Homo sapiens: one gene and its partner. The protein of the gene in region 2 purifies or fractionates together with the protein of the main gene of each other region. This does not show direct contact. Each region holds a gene or a part of one and is shown on either strand. Other genes may lie near its edges.

What was found. The genes of interacting proteins can lie anywhere in the genome.
Region 1: the proteins of TACC3 (region 2) and VASP purify together in Homo sapiens (co-immunoprecipitation; 3 studies listed by BioGRID and IntAct, with this or other methods). This does not show direct contact.

The regions. Positions count from the first base shown.
Region 1 is NC_000019.10:45,513,979-45,517,478, reverse strand, and holds part of VASP (vasodilator-stimulated phosphoprotein), read right to left. Parts: intron 1-3,500. UniProt on the Homo sapiens protein: Ena/VASP proteins are actin-associated proteins involved in a range of processes dependent on cytoskeleton remodeling and cell polarity such as axon guidance, lamellipodial and filopodial dynamics, platelet activation and cell migration.
Region 2 is NC_000004.12:1,734,799-1,738,772, reverse strand, and holds part of TACC3 (transforming acidic coiled-coil-containing protein 3), read right to left. Parts: intron 3,501-3,974; coding exon 3,448-3,500; intron 3,043-3,447; coding exon 2,939-3,042; intron 1,533-2,938; coding exon 1,445-1,532; intron 1,176-1,444; coding exon 1,071-1,175; coding exon of another isoform or gene 1,059-1,070; intron 426-1,058; coding exon of another isoform or gene 381-425; exon of another isoform or gene 1-380. UniProt on the Homo sapiens protein: Plays a role in the microtubule-dependent coupling of the nucleus and the centrosome. Involved in the processes that regulate centrosome-mediated interkinetic nuclear migration (INM) of neural progenitors.

The DNA of each region.
Region 1 (3,500 bases), on a different chromosome or scaffold from region 2:
GCAAACACACAAACGAGATGCAAGAGACAGACGCAGAGAGAGGTGGGAAAGGGAGAGTCGGGTTGACAAAGAGGAGAGACAGACTGAAGGCAGACAGACAGATGAACAGATGGGGGAGGGGTGGGGAAAAAGGATGGGCAGACAGGGGACCTGGAGGAAGAGGCAGACACAGAAAGAGATAAAGATGGTCTTGGCGTGGTGTCTCACACCTGTAATCCCAGCACTTTGGAGGTTGAGGCAGGAGGATCACTTGAGCCCAAGCATTTCAGAGCAGCCTGGGCAACATAGTGAGACCCCATCTCTAATAATAATAATTATTATTATTATTTTTATTTTTGTTTTTGAGACAGAGTCTTGCTCTCTGTCACCCAGGTTGGAATGTGGCCTCGACCTCCTGAGCTCAAGCGATCCTCCCACTTCAGCCTCCCAAGTAGCTGGGACTACAAGCATGCACCACCACACCCGACTAATCTTTTTTTTTTTTTTTTTTTTTTTGAGACAGAGTCTTACTCTGTCACCCGGGCTGTCCTCGGCTCACCGCAACCTCTGCCTCCCAGGTTCAAGCCATTCTCCGCCTCAGCCTCCTGAGTAGCTGGAATCACAGGCATGCACCACCAAGCCCAGCTAATTTTTTGTATTTTTAGTAGAGACGAGGTTTCACCATGTTGGCCAGACTGGTCTCGAACTCCTGGGCTCAAGTGATCCATTTGCCTCAGCCCCACAAAGTGCTGGGATTACAGGGGTGAGCCACCACACCCAGTCCACAAAAAAACTTTTTTAATGAAAAATAAAAAACACAACACAACAAAACTAATAAGAAGGAAAAGATAAAGATGGAGAGACAGGCTGAGGGGTGTAAGAGGCCGAGGCCAATGCCAGTGGGGGGATGCGGGTTAGCAGAGCAGAGGGCAGGAGGGAAGACAGAGGGGCCAGAAGGAGGCCAAGAGCCCAGAGCTGCACTAGGGACCAGCCCCTGCCTGACCTCAGTTTCCCTATCTCTACGCACCCCCCTCCACCACTGCCTGCTCAGGAAGAAGCTGAGGCTTGGGAGGGGAAGTGTGAGGCCTGCAGCAGGTTGGGGACCCATCCCAGACCTCTGAGCTCTTCCTCCAAAGGGACTTCCCGCTGCCCACCCCTCGCCTGGCTCCCCAGGGCACTAGCGGCCATTCCCCAGATACTCCCTGCTCTGTGTCTGGCCTATATTGGGTGGGGCTGGGGATGAAGACACAGCAGTGACCCAGACAGCTCCGGCACCACCCTCCTGGGGCTCACAGTCCAGTGTGGGAGACACAGCTGTCCCCAGACGGTACCAACCCAGGTTTAGGACCAAGGAGCCCAGGGTCTGGGGGTACCCTGAAGGAACGCCTGCCCCAGCCTGGAGAGTCAGGCAGGACTTCCTGGAAAAGGCAACGTCTGACTTAGCCTGGGTGGGAGGTGTCAGTAAACTGGTGCAGAGTTCAGGAGCTGATATCCCCAGACCTGGGTTCAAATCCCCACTGAGCCACCTACTTCATGTGACTCAGGCACATGACCTTCCCACTCAAGACCTCTTCTTGCCTGTGAACTGGGAAAATGACAGTCCCCACCTCCAGGGCAGTGGGGGAGGGGCACATGAATCTGGGCACCTAAAGGGCTTGGTACAGCCGGGTGTGGTGGCTCACGCCTGTAATTACAGCATGTTGGGAAGCTGAGGTGAATGGATCGCTTGAGCTCAGGTGTTCGAGACCAGCCTGGGCAACATGGTGAAATCCCGTCTCTACAAAAACGTACAAAGATTAGCTGGGCGTGGTGGTGTGCACCTGTAGTCTGAGCTACTCAGGAGGCTGACGCAGGAGAATCGCTTGAACCCAGGAGGTGGAGGCCGCAGTGAGCTGAGATCACGCCATTGCACTCCAGCCTGGGCGACAGAGTGAAACTCTGTTTCAAAAAAAAGAAAAAAAGCTAAGTGCTTGGTACAGCGTCCAGCACACGCCGAGAGCTCAGTAACTGTCAACATCCCTCTCATGGGCACCACTGGGGCCCGGGACAGCTACAACCCTCGGGACCCTCCCACCAGCCCCTCTGGGAGGTTCAATCCCCTCTCCCCCAGTGAGGAAACTCAGGCCTAGACAGGAACTCAAACAGGAAGTGACTTGCCCAAGGTCACACAGGGGAAGGGGAAGCACTGGTCTCCTCCCCACCCCACCCACACCAGGCTTTTTCCTGAAATGGGGAAGTTGGTGGTCAGAGGTTTCCGGGGACAGAAATTAGACACCCCCCGCAAAGCCTCTGTCTCTAGGAGGGCTGGGGGCTGGGTGTGACACTGATGCTGGGAAGTCAGGGCAGGGAAAGTCCCTAGGCAGACTCAGCTGTGGGTAGGGACCTGGGGTAGGGACCCTCAAATTTACCTAATTGTGCCATCTCCCTCTTACTAGGCATTTCAGGTGGATCAGGGGCCTTAAGCCCCTCCCCCAAAGTCACTCATTTTATTCTCACTGCAGCTTATCCAGAGAGCCACTCATTCTAATTTTGCAGGTGAGGACTAGAGGCCCAGAGAGGTTGAGTGACTTGCCCACAGTCACACAGCTACTGAGGAATAGAGTGAAGATGTGAATTCAGGCTTCCAAGCCTTAACCACCGGGAACTGTGTGGGCCCCACCCAAACACCAGGTGCCCTTTCCAGACAAACACAGCCTCGGGGGCTGTTTCTGGCTCCTGCTGCCCCTGGCAAGGCAGGGTTAAGGCCTCGGCCTCACCCACACCTGCCACCCACACCCAGGGCCGACTCTGGCCAGGAGCCCGGGGCTGCTGCTGCCCCGCCCTGGCTGCACTTTGCTCTCCCAGGCAGCCCTGCCCTACTGAGGCTCTGGACTGGCCGGAGAACAGGGCGCCTGCTGGGTGACCAAGGGGTGGTCTTGCCCCTCTCCAGGGAACACTATACCCATTGTAACAGAAGGATCCTGTTAAAACACGAGGTGGGGCGGGGAACGGTGGCTCATGCCTGTAATCCCAGCACTTTGAGAGGCCGAGGCGGGAGGATTGCTTTAGTCCAGAAGTTCAAGACCAGCCTGGGCAACACAGTGAGACCCCCCATCTCTAAAAAACAAAACAAACTAACAAAAACCTACAAGGTGGGATGTCTCTTCTTCTTCTTGAAGGCTCCAGGCTCCTACGGAATCAATGCCAAGTTCTCTCCAGGGCCTCCGTGATCTGTGTGTCCTCAGATCTCATTTCTTCCCGCTCCACTGTCCCTTGGGGACTCTGTTCCAGACCCTAGACCTCCTACCCCCATGCTGCTCTTCCCGCAGGCCAGACACATTCCTGCCTCGGGCCTGTGTGCTGCTTCTTCCTCAGGCCTAGCCTCTCCCCACTTTCAGGTCTCTCCTTAGATGTCACCCCTTCCAAGAAGCCGTCCCTCACTCCCTTAGCTGGAAACGCTTCTCTCCTTTTCATCCCCTGCTGCACATTTCATAGCAGTGACCCCTGCCCAACACAATATTTGTCTGTCTCCGCTGCCAAAA
Region 2 (3,974 bases):
TTGGAATTGGCTTAGACTGTGTGGTCCAACCTTAGCCAACAGGGGAACAACACAGCAGTAGGGCTACCTGTGTCAGGAATAAGAACCCCTTCCCCTCCCTTGTTCAGGTGTGCTCTTGCCATTGCTCCATCTGCGAGGGGCACCCTTTCTGCAGAAAGTAAAAACTGCCTTGCTGAGAAAATTAATGTTCGAGCACTATTTCTTTGTGGCACCAGAGAACAAGCATTGTGCATTTCTAACATAAGTTACATGCAGGGGCCACCTGCCCCCGGAGCCCAGGCCTGCAGAGGAGGGGGCCAGCCACACTGTGGTCCCCAGGCCTGCTATTGGGTTACTCACACGGGCTCTGACACAGGGAAGGAGGTTGTTGGGGTACGGGGTCAGGGCCACATCACAGGCCTCTGCGGAGATGACACCTGGGGCCACTGTGAACAACACTGGTGTGGATGTTGGGGCTTGAACCCAGCCCTGCCAGCCGGCCTCCGGAACCACCCTGTCTGCACCTCCCTGGGGACCATCTGGCGACGGTAGCTCACAGTGGTGCCTGCAGACACCCAGCCCCTTTGTGTGCCTACAGCTCTCTTAGGGACAATTTAGGCCCGGAGTTAGAACAGGCTGAAGCCTGGCATGTACAGTGAGGATGGAGGGAGACAAGGCACGGGACCCTCAGATGTGGGGTGGGTGAAGATGGAGCTTCCTAAGCTGCCAGGAGATGCGTCTGGACTCGTGGGAGGGCGGGAGGAAAGGGGCGACACTCGGGCTCACGGCAGCAAGAACCACACTCACTGCTGCAAGGCCACCAGAGGCCAACGCCATGCCCAGGCCGGAGAGTCCCGGGGAGGCTGCTGGTGGGCAGCTGACTGCGGGGACACTGGGTGGAAGCCTGGACCCTCAGCGACCTGGGCAGTAGTGACAGGCCAGGGGCCGGCAGCTCTCTGCAATTCCACCCCAACCAGCAGGGGCAGGGATGGCAGGGATGGCGGGTCAGGCTGTTGGACCCCTGCCCACTGTTGGCCAAGCCCCAGAGCGGCCTGCAGGTTCTGTGGAATAGCTACTACCTGCGTCCTTACCACTGCATCCAGGTCCTTCTGGCTGTACTGGAGCAGGTCCACTATAGGTCCGGTGGACAGGGGTGGGCCCCCAGGCGCGGGAACACCTGGGGGTGGGCCTGGCACCTGCGGGAGATGGGGATGAAACAGGAACCCATTTCGCCCTTGCCTCTTACCTCTGACCTAGTGTGAGGGAGGAAAGGCCCACACAGGCCAAGAGCCTCAGACAGTGCATGAGGGACCCGAGACAGTGCGGCGAGGGAACAGCACAGCGGCCCCATGCCCCCAACAAAACCAAAGGCTCAGACCCCCAGGAATAGAAAATATAGGCCCTTAAAACAACTCGTTCCCTCAGACCACACACAAGACAGTTCAAGAGGGACTCAAGGACTTACAGGAATGTCCAGTGCTCCCAAGAAATCGAACTCCACAAGCTTGGCTTCCCGCGGACGTCCTGAGGGAGTCTCATTTGCACCGTGCATGCTGCCACCAAGCAGAGGCAGCCTCAGTCACTAGGCCCTCCCAGTGTTGAGTAGGACACAGAGGACCATGTGGACAAGCTAACCGGGCTCTTTGCTTTTTAGTTTAAAACCACTCAAGTCAGGGTAGTGGTAGAAAACGCAGACCCGCATCCAGCATGCCCGGCCTCTCTGCTGCTCCGTGCCCCCCTCCCTCACCTGCCCATCCCACGTGGCTGCTTGTCCTTCCGGGAGAGCACGGTGACGCTTCATTACCCACTGCAGGCTGAGCGGAGCCAGTGCTGCCTCATCAGGGGGCTGTTCACAGCTCAGAGCCTTTTTTTTTTTCTTTTTCCGAGACAGGGTCTCACTCTGTCACCCAGATTGGAGTGCAGTGGCATGATCTCGGCTCCCTGCAACCCCTGCCTCCCAGGCTCACCCGATTCTCCTGCTTCAGCAACCCAAGTAGCTGGGATTACAGGCGCCTGCCGCCTCACCCGGCTAATTTTTGTTATTTTTAGTAGAGATGGGGGTTCACTATGTTGGCCAGGCTGGTCTCAAACTCCTGACCTCAGGCGATCCACCCGCCTCAGCCTCCCAAAGGGCTGGGATTCCAGGTGTGAGCCACTGCGCCCGGCCATGTGTTAGGATTTGAAGGCCACACAGCCTCTGTCACACTACTCAGTTCTGGCCTTGTAGTGTGAAAGTTGCCACAATTTGCAAAGGAACGGGCATGGCTCTGTGACGATAAAACTTTACACAAACAGGCAGTGGCCAAGTCTGGCCCACAGGTGATAGTTTGCTGACCTCTATTTTTTGGTTTTTTTTTTTTTTTTTTTTTTTGAGATGGAGTCTCACTCTGTTGCCCAGGCTGGAGTGCAGTGGCGCAATCTCAGCTCACTGCAACCTCCGCCTCCTGGGTTCAAGCAATTCTCCTGCCTCGGCTTCCCAAGTAGCTGAGACTACAGGTGCATGCCGTCACACCCGGCTAATTTTTGTATTTTAGTAGAGACGGGGTTTCAACATGTTGCCCAGGCTGGTGGCAAACTCCTGAGCTGAGGCTATCCATCCACCTCGGCCTCCCAAAGTGCTGGGATTACAGGCGTAAGCCACCGCGCCTGGCCTGCCGACCTCTGTTTTAGAGGAAGTACTCTTAAAAGATTTAAGTTTAGATCTTTAATATACCTAGAACGGTGGCTGTAACCAGCAAGGCAGCAGCCCTGTGGCTGGAGGGTAGGCTGCCGTTGCTCCTGCCAGACACACAAGGGCTGCTCTGGCCTTGCTGCCCAGCCCACCCCTAGCACAGCTCCTTTCCAGTTCTGATCATCTCCCCCCGGTCTAGAAGCCTCTGTGCAGACAGCACACCTAGGAACAGCCTCCAGTCTTCCCACACTCAAGGCTTCATGCATGAGGGAGGGCCGGCGCACATACCTGCTGGTCTCGGTGGCCACGGGCACTGGTCTACCAGGACTGTCCCTCAGGAGGGGGTCGAACTTGAGGTATAAGGACTGCTTCCTCAAGGCCGACTCCTTAAACTGGGGACAAGAGGGCAAGTGATCAGGTCTGACTGCCATCCCCTAACACACACGGGGGCTAAGGGCCAGGGAGGTCACCTGCACACTCCCACCCCCGGTCACCCGCACACTCCCACCCCCGGTCACCCACAACCCTGCCCGAGACACCACCATTCCCAGCAGCACAGCGTGTCAGAGTTTCATCCTGGGCTAGGCACCAGGTAGAGAGCCCTAGAGCCCTGCCACAGGACACCACTTAGAGGAGGTGCTGCAGAAGGGGCCCTGGATTCACAGCCCGCCACAATGCCTGGGCCTGTGTGCAGCTGGGGGGACGTGGGCACCAAGGGACGCTCCGGGGGCAAGACCTGCCGTGGCTGCTCTCGGACACCCTGTGGGTGAGGCTTCGCGGAATTGCCTGGTACCTACCGAGGAAGTTCCAAACTGCTCCAGGTAATCCACCTCCGCGCCCGTGCCTAGAACTGAGAGGAGTGAATCATGCCGCCGCCATCGCCCCTCACCAGGGCCCTAAGGGCGGCGGGCTGGTGTCTCCCTCAGCACTCAGTGAGGCAGGATCATTCCAGCCAGCAGTATTTCCTCCCTTGGAGGTGTGGATGTTCGGGGCCTGACTGCTGTCTGCGGCAGGCGCCTCCTGGGCACCGCAGGGTGCTGAGCGGCATCCCCAGCCTCTACCCACTCCCTGCCAGCAGCACCTCCAGGTGTGACAACCACAAACATCTGGGGAAAGGCGGGGGCAAAACTGCTCTGGTTGAGAACTATTAGTCTTTAAAATTACCCTAGACAAGTCTTTTAATTTTTGATAATATAACTTTTGATTAAAACTAAGGGTGGAGGCTGAGGCGAGTGGATCACTTGAGCCCAGGAGTTCAACAGGGCAAAACCTTGTCTGTACAAAAAATACAAAAATTAGCTAGGCGCGGTGCTGCACTCCTATT